Linked DNA regions of Homo sapiens. The protein of the gene in region 3 purifies or fractionates together with the protein of the main gene of each other region. This does not show direct contact. Each region holds a gene or a part of one and is shown on either strand. Other genes may lie near its edges.

Region 1 (3,647 bases), on a different chromosome or scaffold from region 3:
AGCGCTGTGACAAGTTGCATGGCCTAGTCCTGGGCACCCCCTCAGGCAGATGGACAGTCAGGCCTGAAGGACAGGGGCCCTTCCTGAGTTCTGGCTGTAACTCCCATGTTTGAGCAGCCCTGGCTTCTCCTGCAGGGATTGGGTTGGCCTGAGCGCCTGCCTGCTCCCCGTCCAGCGCTGACCTGGGCTGCCTCCCACTTCCTTCACTGCCAGGATGGGAACCTGCCCAGTGGAGAGGCCATGGTGAGGCAGTTTTTGCAGGGCCAGAACTTCTTTCTGCAGGAGTTTGGGAAGATGTGCTCTGAGGTAGGCTGAGAGCTGCTACACCAGGCTGTGGGCGAGTGGGGCTGGCGCTCGACTTGGAGTGCTGAGGGGCTGAGGCTGGGGTGAGTCCGCCTGGAGCTCTGGTTCCTGCACTCCAGGATCCTCTTTCTCCACAGTTCTGGCTGCCGGACACCTTTGGCTACTCAGCACAGCTCCCCCAGATCATGCACGGCTGTGGCATCAGGCGCTTTCTCACCCAGAAATTGAGCTGGAATTTGGTGAACTCCTTCCCAGTAAGCAGGCCCCCGGGGGGTCAGGGTCAGAGTGGGCCTCAGTCCCGCCTGGCCCATTTGCCTCTCCCCCTTATTGTGGGGTCCTAGACAGACCACCAAACCCTCACTCTGCCTCTGCCAGGGTCACATAGCAGGCAGGGGCAGGACCAAGTCTGGAAGGCCTGGCTCTGCCTCAGCCCTGACTCTGGCCTCTCTGCCCTGCTTCTGTTTCCCTGCTGGTAGCACCATACATTTTTCTGGGAGGGCCTGGATGGCTCCCGTGTACTGGTCCACTTCCCACCTGGCGACTCCTATGGGATGCAGGGCAGCGTGGAGGAGGTGAGGGGTCACCTAGGGTGGTGGGGTAGGGGCAGGCTGGAGAGGGCTGGCTTGTTCCAGGCTGATCCATGCTGGCCTGCCCTCACCTGTCTAGGTGCTGAAGACCGTGGCCAACAACCGGGACAAGGGGCGGGCCAACCACAGTGCCTTCCTCTTTGGCTTTGGGGATGGGGGTGGTGGCCCCACCCAGACCATGCTGGACCGCCTGAAGCGCCTGAGCAATACGGATGGGCTGCCCAGGTCAGGCCAGGCCTTGGCTCTCCTTTAGCCCCACCCTGGGCCCTTGCCATGAGCCCTGCCTTCCCTCAGACATTGGGCCCAACCCCTCCTCTGGACCTTGTCCTGTCCCAATCCTAGACCACGGGTTCCTCCAAACTTCCACCCTGGGGGTGGGTGGGGGAGAAGCTGAAGCTGGTAAGGGCTCCAGCCCATCAGAGAGAGAGGCTCTCCTAGGGCGTCCAGGGCTGGCCATCTGTGAACGGGGAGCTTTCTGGAGTGGCTCCTCTCTGTAGGAGCTGGATCCTTTGCTTTGGTGTGGAAGAAGGGTGAGCCATGTGGTCTCCAAGGCTGGGAGACCTAGGCTTGTGGTCTCCTCAGGGTGCAGCTATCTTCTCCAAGACAGCTCTTCTCAGCACTGGAGAGTGACTCAGAGCAGCTGTGCACGTGGGTTGGGGAGCTCTTCTTGGAGCTGCACAATGGCACATACACCACCCATGCCCAGGTCAGGGGGAGGTTGCAGGGCTGTGCAGGGAGGGTGTGCCCTTGATCTGCAGAGGGTCAGAGAAGGCAGCAGGGGACAGAGCCCAGGCCAGATCTAGGGGAAGAGAAGTTTGGAGGAGAGAAGTTCAAGACCTGGGTTGGTCAAGAAAGCTTGAAGGAGGCAGAAACCCCTGAAGAAAGAAGGGTTTGGGCTGCGGGGAGAAGAGGGAAGGCATTTAAGGCAGGTCACCCGCCAGAGGCCTTCTCCACGAGGCCCTTGGTGAGTCCTCAGGGATTCTGAGCAAGGGAGGGCTTTGGAAGGTGTCCTGGGACAGCTAAGCAGGCTCCAGACTAATCTTCCCATCCTGGGCTCAGATCAAGAAGGGGAACCGGGAATGTGAGCGGATCCTGCACGACGTGGAGCTGCTCAGTAGCCTGGCCCTGGCCCGCAGTGCCCAGTTCCTATACCCAGCAGCCCAGCTGCAGCACCTCTGGAGGTCAGCCCAGTTCTGTCCCTGCCATCCACCTGACTGCTCACTGCAGTTACCTCTGTGCCTGCCCCTCCCAGCCTTCCCATCCCTGCCCTTGGCCCCTGCAGGCTCCTTCTTCTGAACCAGTTCCATGATGTGGTGACTGGAAGCTGCATCCAGATGGTGGCAGAGGAAGCCATGTGCCATTATGAAGGTTAGGCTCACAATAGTCCTGCCTGCTCTCTCCAACCCCAGGGCTGAGCCCAGAGTGTCCCCTGTGGGATACCCATGGGCACATTCCAGACCTGTTGCCCACCTATGACCAGCCAGTCTTTCCTCAGACATCCGTTCCCATGGCAATACACTGCTCAGCGCTGCAGCCGCAGCCCTGTGTGCTGGGGAGCCAGGTCCTGAGGGCCTCCTCATCGTCAACACACTGCCCTGGAAGCGGATCGAAGTGATGGCCCTGCCCAAACCGGGCGGGGCCCACAGCCTAGGTACGAGCTGAGGGGAAGGGTTGCTACTGCAGCAGGAAGGATGGAGGCCAGACAGATCAGGCCTGGGATACCCCGAGGGATCTGGGTGCCCCTGACTGGAGAGTAGTAGCACATCTTCCACCAACCCATCCCCACCTGCGCAAGCTTCCTGAAAGGTCAGGAAGGCTGCACTGATGCCCAGGCCTCACCCCCAGCCCTGGTGACAGTGCCCAGCATGGGCTATGCTCCTGTTCCTCCCCCCACCTCACTGCAGCCCCTGCTGCCCCAGCAGCCTGTGTTCGTAGTGCAAGAGGTGAGTCCTGCATGCCCTGGGGGGCAGGAACTGTGCTGGGATACTTTCTTACAACTGAGGGTCCTGAGCTCCCCTGTCTGGAGCAAGTGGTGAGGCGGGGCTGGGGTTGGGGTGGGAAGACTTTTGGTGTGGGAAGCCCCTACAGACTCAGCCTCAAGGCCTCCTCCCACAAAGACTGATGGCTCCGTGACTCTGGACAATGGCATCATCCGAGTGAAGCTGGACCCAACTGGTCGCCTGACGTCCTTGGTCCTGGTGGCCTCTGGCAGGTGCCAAATCCTCATTGCCCTTTCCCAGTGCCTGGCAAGTAGACCCCAGGCCATTTCCTCTCTCCCCTTGCCACAACACTGCCCACAGCAGCCCACCAGTGGCTCTGGGCTGGAACCCACACATGGAGCAGGGCAGGCTGGGCAGTAGTCCCCTGTCCACTGGGTCTACTCACTCCACCCTACCCCACCAAGAGCAGCTGGAGACAGCGAGGTCAGTTGGTTGTACAGCACCAATCCCATGTCCTTCCAGGGAGGCCATTGCTGAGGGCGCCGTGGGGAACCAGTTTGTGCTATTTGATGATGTCCCCTTGTACTGGGATGCATGGGACGTCATGGACTACCACCTGGAGACACGGTATAGGCTGGGCAGCATGTGGGGATGGTGGAGGTGGTGGGAACACAGGCTGCTCTGGATCAGTATGTCCACCCCTGTCCCATAGGAAGCCTGTGCTGGGCCAGGCAGGGACCCTGGCAGTGGGCACCGAGGGCGGCCTGCGGGGCAGCGCCTGGTTCTTGCTACAGATCAGCCCCAACAGTCGGCTTAG
Region 2 (4,097 bases), on a different chromosome or scaffold from region 3:
ACATTTTCAAAGCTGGATGAATCTTGTATTCTCACTGAGTACAGTTCTCCAACTGATGTGTCAAGGATGATGCTTGTATAACTATAGGAGGGAAATCCTCTGTGATTAATGCATGCAGGAGAAAATACTATGCTCTTCCCTGTGGGTGCAGGGCATGTTTCTACATACCCACATTGTGTGGGAAGCAGAGTGGTTATACTTGCCCTTCTTGGATTTTTTCTCAAGGCAAGACCCTGGCCTCATCCTCCAAATGCATGTTCCAGTCCCTCTCTCACATCAGGGGTGTTTACGAGACTGACTTGGATAACTTTTGCAAAATATACTTGCCTGGCCCTCTGTCTCCCCATTGGACATTTGTTTCATGAGGAGTATCATTTCTAGGGTAAAAGCAAGGATTTTGAAAAAAAATTCTTTGCCATTTTATCAGAAGAATTATATTTAATGAAATTAAAAATAAAAATAGGTGATTTTGATGTTCACCCTAGGCTAAGAGGACCACTGCTGTCTTTGAGGCATTTACAGACATATGGAAATCTGAAGCATACTTAGAGTTGCGGGTTCTTTCTCTGTAATTCTTTTAAACTGGGCATAAACCTCAAAGGGAGTGTAAAATGCAGAGTGTTGTCAACTTATCACACCAAGAATATTTTTTTGCACCTTTTTAGTTTGGAAGGGTCAAATTGAGATGACAGAGGAATAGTGGATAAGAGCTATAGTGCTATTAAATTACATTCTAGAGTTGGGAAAATCGAGACCCATAATCCTAGGAATTATTAATGATAAGAGCTAACACTTTCTGAGTGCTTACCACATGCCAGGCCCTATACTGAATGCATCATGTCCATTTTCTCATTTGATCCTGACAACCACCTGTGAGGCCTCATTTTGAAGACAAGCAAGCTGAGGCTCAGACCTTGGATTTGTCCAAGGTCACTCAGTTGGTCATTTACAGAGCCCTGATTCAAACTCTCTTTTGCTTGATTACAAAGCCATTGCTCTAAAAGATTAGATTATACTGTCTGTATTTGCTTCTGGGAGCTTATGGAATTCACTCCTATCTGTTCTCACAAGGAACTCTATTGGGTTTTGAAAAAGGCTAAAGAATTGAAAAGAAACTTTGTAGGCTGGGAAACATAGTGTCCTTTGAGCAGTGAGATAGGCTAAGCTCAGAGGACTGGGCTCTGGAATGTGGAAAGGAGACGTGCCCACTGGAGAGCAAGTCAGAACTTTCGTGAGCCCTGCTCCAGGTCCCAGGAGAAAGTGCCAGCCATGAGGACTGGAGTATTGCCTGGTAAGGAGAAGATTATTATTTTATCTAACACGTTCTTCTATAACGCTCTATATGCTAGGCACTGGTCTGCACTGCTCTAAGTACTTTATAAGTATTAACTCCTTTACATCTTATAACACTTCCCTGGAAATAGGCATTATTATTGCCCCCATAATACATATGAGTAAACTGAAGTTCAGAGATGTTAAATAACTTGTTCAAGGTCACATAGCTGGTTAAGTGCCAGAGCCAGGCTTTGAACCTAGGCAGTCTGGATCTAGTGGCTGTGTTATACTGCTTCGCAACAGAAACTTGATTTTTCTTTCTTCTGTGTTTATCATCCTTTCTCAATCACTCCTGGGCAAGTCTACTTTGCTAGCAAATTTCCCTTACCCCTTTGGCTTTTTTTTCACCCATGAACCCTCTAATGTTTTCTGCAGCTTCTTTGAGCTCATTCTTTATCTTCCACACTGCCTCTTTTGGCATTACTCATGAACGACATGCTCTTTTCATCTGCCAAATATTTTTTCCATAAATTATCCCATCTCAACTTGGGAAGTCACAATGGGAAGTATTGTTCCTATTTTGTGAATGAGGCAACTAAGGCAAGCAACTTTCCTGAAGTCTCACACAACCATCTAGTGGCAAAGTGCACTAGAATCCAGATTCTCTGATTCTGAATCTAATGTTCTTGTCCATTGCACCATCTGATGGAATTTAACTATCTATTCATTAATTAATTTATTCATTAATATTGTAAAAATATACTGAGTGTCTTACTGTATGGTAAGGCCCTGGGTGCAAAAGTCGGTATAAAAATTGTTGCTCTTAAGCAACAGACAACACAGAGAGATAAGGTCTCACCATAAAAAGTTAAATAGCAGCACATATACTAAGTGCCAAATGAGTGGTCTGGTCACATCATACAAGAATTTTGAGGTTGGATATGTAGCATCAAAGACTGCTTTATCAGAAAGGTGAGACTTGAACTTGGCATAGAAGGGTACTTAGAACTTAGAGAAGAGAATGGAGCAGCACTTTCCAAACTCTGGGAATGGTGTGCATTAAAGCAGTCCTTCACAACCTTTATTGTGTCATGGCATGCAGAGAAAAGCATAGTATTTGTAAAGCACACTAGGCTGAATGGAGGAAGCAGTTTGACATCTAGAGGCAAGCATTCTAGGAGTTTCAACAGCACTGTCTCTGGGCTCAGTTGAGGACAGAGAAGAAATCTCATAGCCTCAGACACTTGTAATATGTTTGGGAAGGTCTGCACTAGGTATTGGGGGCACACTGTGGTCATGGTGGGTCTAAAGACCACTGACAAGCCCACAGGGATGAAATGAGGGGAATTTCCAGAGAAGCCATAGTAGATACCATTGGAAAGAAAAGTTATGGGCAAATGATGAAGGGCTTTTGAATTTTATTCTGTGGACCTACAGAATAGGTAGGCAAAATATGCATAGCACTGTTTTAGAAAGATTCCACTGGTTTTCATATGGGAGATTAACTAGAGGGAAGAAGAGTAGTCAAGAGGCTATTACCATTGTCCAGGTGGGAGGTGATGTTATCTTGAACTAGATTGATAGTAATAGAGACAGAGAATGGTGGACAGAATTGAGTTATATTTTGGAGGTAAAAATGTCAGGGTTTGGTAATAGAATTGCATAATGGAGAGTAGAAGAAAGGGAGGTGACAAGGAGGATTTCAAATTTTCAAGTTTAAGCAAATGCTTATGAATAGTGATGCCATTCTTTAAGATAGAGAGCCCAGGAGAAGTAGAAAGATTTTTTTGGAGGGGAAGGACAAATGAGATGATGAGTTTCAAGTTGACATTTGGAGGCAAGGAAACCAGTTAGGAGGCTATTGTAAAAGCCAAGTAAGACAAGGTGAGATCCTGGACTACAATGGTAGCAGTGGGAATGGAAGGAAAATGGTGAATTGAGAGACATTATACAGGAAGAATTGATAGGATTTTGTCACGGACTGACTTCTGGAGTTGAAAGGTAGAGGAAGGCTTGAAGCCTAAGATATCTTCTGTCCTTTATCTTCTTAGTGATGCTCCGATCTTCGTGGCTTAATATACTATCTATTTGCTGATGAGTCACAAATTTGTATCTCCATACTTTTATGCCCAATTGCCTGCTGGACATATCAACTTGCATGCCTAATAGGTATCTCCAACTTACCATGTTCAAAACTGCCCCTGCCCACAACCCCCAACAAAACCTGCTGCACTCACAAAACCTGCTCCTCACAGTCTTCCCCGTCTCCCTAAATACCAATTTCATTCTTCCGGTTGCTCAGGCGGAAGACCTAGGAATCAATCTTGATTTTTCCCTCTTTCATATCCTACATTTATTTGATCAGCAAATCTTATTGGTTCTACCTTCAGAATATATCTAGAATCTGACCACTTTTTCATTGCTACTATCCTGGTTTATGTCACAATGATCTGCTTCCTGGATTATATTGCACTAGCCTCTCAACTGTTCTCCTTGCTTCTGTTCTTGCCACCATCACTCAAGCCTATTATTCTCTCACTGTTTTTTGGAACCAGGATAATTTTATTATGTGAATGTCAGATCATGTCACTCCTCTGCTCAAAACTCCTCCAATGGCTTCCCATCTGACACTCAGTAACAACAAAACCCCTTATAATGGCCCATAATGCTGTATGCAACCCAGATATTGACATACTCCTGTCCTTCAGGTGATGGATCAAATATCCCACTTGGTAAAATCTTCTCTGATTACCATATTTAGTATTGCAAGCGCCTTCTCGCCATTCTCTATCTGCCTTCCATGTTTTATTTCTTTATACTTT
Region 3 (3,647 bases):
CTGGATGACTTTGGATAAGTTACTTACCCTCTCTGGGCTTCAGTCTCCACATCTGTAAAGCGAGGCAGTTGCACTAGATCAGGCTGACAAATACATGGTGAGCGTATCACAACCCTCCCAGCCTGCATTCATGGCAGACATCACTAGTCAATGCCAGCACTCTTTTCCACCCGATATAGCATTCCAGGCAGTCATTACAAATCAACTGACACGAGATAAAATTCATCTACCGTTTCTGGTCAAATGCTATGTTCTTTCTGTCCTGGCATTCTGAGACATATTTTTAAAGCCACCATCTCAACCCTCATAGCAACTGCATTGTGTGGAAGGTCAGGCAGGAGTTATTGCTTCCTTTATAACAGATAGTATAACCAAGTCCCAAGGAGGGGCTACGATCTGCTTGGGTCACAAAAGCTGGGGGTCAGGCTTCTCCTAGGCTCCCCTTCCACTCTGTCATCTTAAAGTGCAGTGACCCCACCACCAGCAAGTCTGGAAGGTCACAGTCTTGACATGTTCTGCCCCACTTGGAGGAACTTGTCCCAATTTGAGGTTGACTCTGTGGTCACCACCTCTCACCACCCTGCCCAGCCTTGGGAGAAGTCCTTTCTCTCTTCAGCCACCGTTGTCCCTGGCTGGAATCAAGAAATCCGTGTTTTCTGCCCATCTGTAACTTATGTCACAAGTGTCATTGAGCCAGCAAGTGTCAGAGCTGGAAGCCACTTCAAAGACCATCCAGTTCCACCCTGCCTTCACATTTTACATGTAGGGAAACTGAGGCCTAGAGTGGAGAAGAGGCTTGCTGAAGTCAACAGCTGATATATTGCAGAACTGGAACTCAAACCTAGGTGTCCTGCCCCTGGACCTGGGCTCAGCTTCTCTGTGTGTCAGTTTCCCTATTGGTATGAAGAGGGAGTTGGCCTCATTGAAAGTTAAGCACCCACCCAGAGCTGCCCTGTGTGGTGCCTCAGTTGTAGGAGGCAAGCCAGGGCTCTGTGCCCTGCCAGCCATGTGAACTGGGTGATCTTTGGTCTCCTGAGGCCCGCTTTCCTCATTTATAAAATGGTGGGAAGAGTGGCACCCTATAGAGACCCCCCGTCCCAATGTTGCAGGTAGCAGATGCTCAATGCTTGGAAGAGGTTTTATGATCATTAACTTGATGCCCCCCACCCACAGCAGTGCAGATGATGAGAGGAGTTGGGGCTGGGGCCTTTGTATACCCCAGCTCCCCAGCCCTGTGAATAGGTTGAGGGCTGCAGGCTACAGGTGGGATCGGGGTGGGGAGGGCAGGGTCAAGGGAGGAGGAGTTGGAGGGAGATATGGGGCTTGAAACTGCTTTTCCATCCCCTGTCTGTCATCCCTGCCTCCCTGCTCAGGCTCAAAAGGCTATTGATGAAGTCTTCGAGGGCCAGAAAAGGGCAAGCTCATGGCCCAGCAGGACCCAGAATCCTGTGGAAATCTCCTCCGTCTTCTCAGACTACTATGACCTCGGCTACAACATGCGGTCAAACTTGTTTCGAGGTCAAGTCAAAGGGCAAGGGTGGGGCCGTGAACACCCATGGTCTCCCAGGCATTGGGCAGGGAAGGCCTTTGGGGTTTCCACTCCATATGGGGTCTAGGACCCCAGGGCACATCTTCAAGGACACTTATTTCATGCCCATGTGTCCTCTATGTCAGCTTGCGAGTGCTGGGAACATCCAGTCCCCTGTCCTTGATGTGTGGATGATTCATCCCAGTTGGCAGTCAGGCACCTCTGGTCCCTCCCCTCCCATCCCCCCCTCCCCTCCCCTCCCCCCTCCCCTCCCCTTCTCTCCCCTCCCCTCCCCTCCCCTCCCCTCCCCTTCCCTTTCCTTCCCTTCTTTTGTTTTTTGAAGTCTCACTCTGTTGCCCAGGCTGGGGTGCAGTGGCACAATCTTGGCTCACTGAAATCACCACCTCACAGGCTCAAGAAAGCAACCCTCCCACCTCAGCTACCCCCCTGCCCCCATAAGTAGCTGGGACCACAGATGCGCGCCACCATACCTGGCTAATTTTTTTCTTTTCTGTTTTTTTTTTTTTGTATTTTTGCTAGAGGCAAGGTTTCACCATATTGCCCAGGCTGGTCTCAAACTCCTGGGCTCAAGTGATTCACCCACCTTGGCCTCTCAAAGTGCTGGGATTACAGGCATGAGTCACTGCGCCCTCCCCACCTCTTGTTCTTAATCTGCCAGTAGGAGGCCCAGGACCCAGTAGAACTGGGACTGCTGCTCCCCACACCCCTAGCCCCATCCCAGGCACCTTTGGTCACAGTGACAATATCAAGTTTCTTTGGTTCAAAGCTCAGCTCAGCCACTCACTAGCTGGGTATGACCTTAGGTGGGATCCTCAACCTCTGCAAGCCTCCGCTGCCTTCTCGGTACAGTGGGGATGATAATGAGAGTATGGCCCTTGCTGGGTCATTGGCAGGACTTTATGAAGTGCCACATGAAGGTGCTTGGCCGAGGCAAGTCGTGAGCACTCAGTAGCTGTCAGGCTATCATTTTTCTTCTCCAGAGCCTGGAGGTGGCGCCACCTGGGAAGAAAGGAAGGGTGGGTTGGAGGCTCTGACATTTACACAGGGTTTCCATTGGATCAGTGTAGTCCTGTTTGGTTGGGGTGGGGAGAGTGCTATTAGCTCCATTTCACGGGCAGATTTCAGATCATTTGCCTTAGAACTCTCAGTAGTCTGCATTGTGCCTAGGACTCAAAGTCAGGTGTTCCTTCTGCCTTCAAAGCCTCATAGTCTTTTCTTGACCACTAAGTCACCTCCCTAGCTATGATCCTGTTCCCAGGGTCTTCTGGATGGCTCAGATGCCTGTCACAGCACGCAGGGGCTTCTCTCTGCCCCACATTCTGGTTTGGCCTCATTGCAAAATGAGGCTGTTTCTGGTATGGCTCCTTCCTCTCTCCTCACTCCAGGCCCTCTCCAGTGCTCCCAGGGCCTGACAAACCTCTTCCACCTGGCTCGGATCCCTGTCACCTGAGGAACCAGGTGCCCACTGGAAGCCTTTCTGGAGTTTTCTCTGAGCTTGGAGAAGGGATGGTGTCAGGGAGGAAAGCGAGAATACAGTTCTGCTTGTTCTCTGTTCCGGGCCTTCCAGATCCTGCCTTCCAGTTCTCTCTTTAACAACTATCGGTCACCAAATAGCTATTCCATACAACTTTGTATGATAATGTCTACATAAATGTAAAATAATCTATTTTTAAAAATGTCCATGTCCCATCATCCCACCTGGGAAGTAGAACTGTGCCAAGGGTGTGCTGGAGCTCATAGCAAATTGCACCAGCTCACAAGAGGCAATTGTCTCTCTGAACTGACTGGCACATAAATGCTGTCTTAAAATTGGCCATGCTAGTAGTATTTACACTCTGGAAATTGGCAAACACTATGAATCAGGGCTTCACCCTGCCACACAGTGCTGTCAGTGTGCCCATCCATCTGTCCCTCTCTGTTTCCACCCACCCAGGGTTAGCCTTTATACTTGCTGTTTGAGGTTGGTGAGGCTGGTATGGCTGCACAGGAGTGAGGCAGAAGACATCAGAGGAAACAGGCTGGGTCGTGAAGCCTGCTGGAAGGTCTTTACTCGGAGTGAGATGAGAAACCAAGCCGGGATTTTAAGCAGGAGAATGGC

What was found.
Region 1: the proteins of CIMIP4 (region 3) and MAN2C1 purify together in Homo sapiens (affinity purification with mass spectrometry; 3 studies listed by BioGRID and IntAct, with this or other methods). This does not show direct contact.
Region 2: the proteins of CIMIP4 (region 3) and RTL9 purify together in Homo sapiens (affinity purification with mass spectrometry; one large-scale study listed by BioGRID and IntAct). This does not show direct contact.

The regions. Positions count from the first base shown.
Region 1 is NC_000015.10:75,358,514-75,362,160, reverse strand, and holds part of MAN2C1 (alpha-mannosidase 2C1), read left to right. Parts: intron 1-213; coding exon 214-306; intron 307-440; coding exon 441-557; intron 558-779; coding exon 780-875; intron 876-969; coding exon 970-1,115; intron 1,116-1,472; coding exon 1,473-1,596; intron 1,597-1,949; coding exon 1,950-2,071; intron 2,072-2,172; coding exon 2,173-2,258; intron 2,259-2,385; coding exon 2,386-2,541; intron 2,542-2,722; coding exon of another isoform or gene 2,723-2,735; coding exon 2,736-2,833; intron 2,834-2,969; coding exon of another isoform or gene 2,970-3,007; coding exon 3,008-3,102; intron 3,103-3,352; coding exon 3,353-3,457; intron 3,458-3,542; coding exon 3,543-3,647. UniProt on the Homo sapiens protein: Cleaves alpha 1,2-, alpha 1,3-, and alpha 1,6-linked mannose residues on cytoplasmic free oligosaccharides generated by N-glycoprotein degradation pathways.
Region 2 is NC_000023.11:110,357,626-110,361,722, forward strand, and holds the start of RTL9 (retrotransposon Gag-like protein 9), read left to right. Parts: upstream 1-1,222; 5' UTR 1,223-1,291; intron 1,292-4,097.
Region 3 is NC_000022.11:36,997,711-37,001,357, reverse strand, and holds part of CIMIP4 (ciliary microtubule inner protein 4), read left to right. Parts: intron 1-1,373; coding exon 1,374-1,518; intron 1,519-3,647.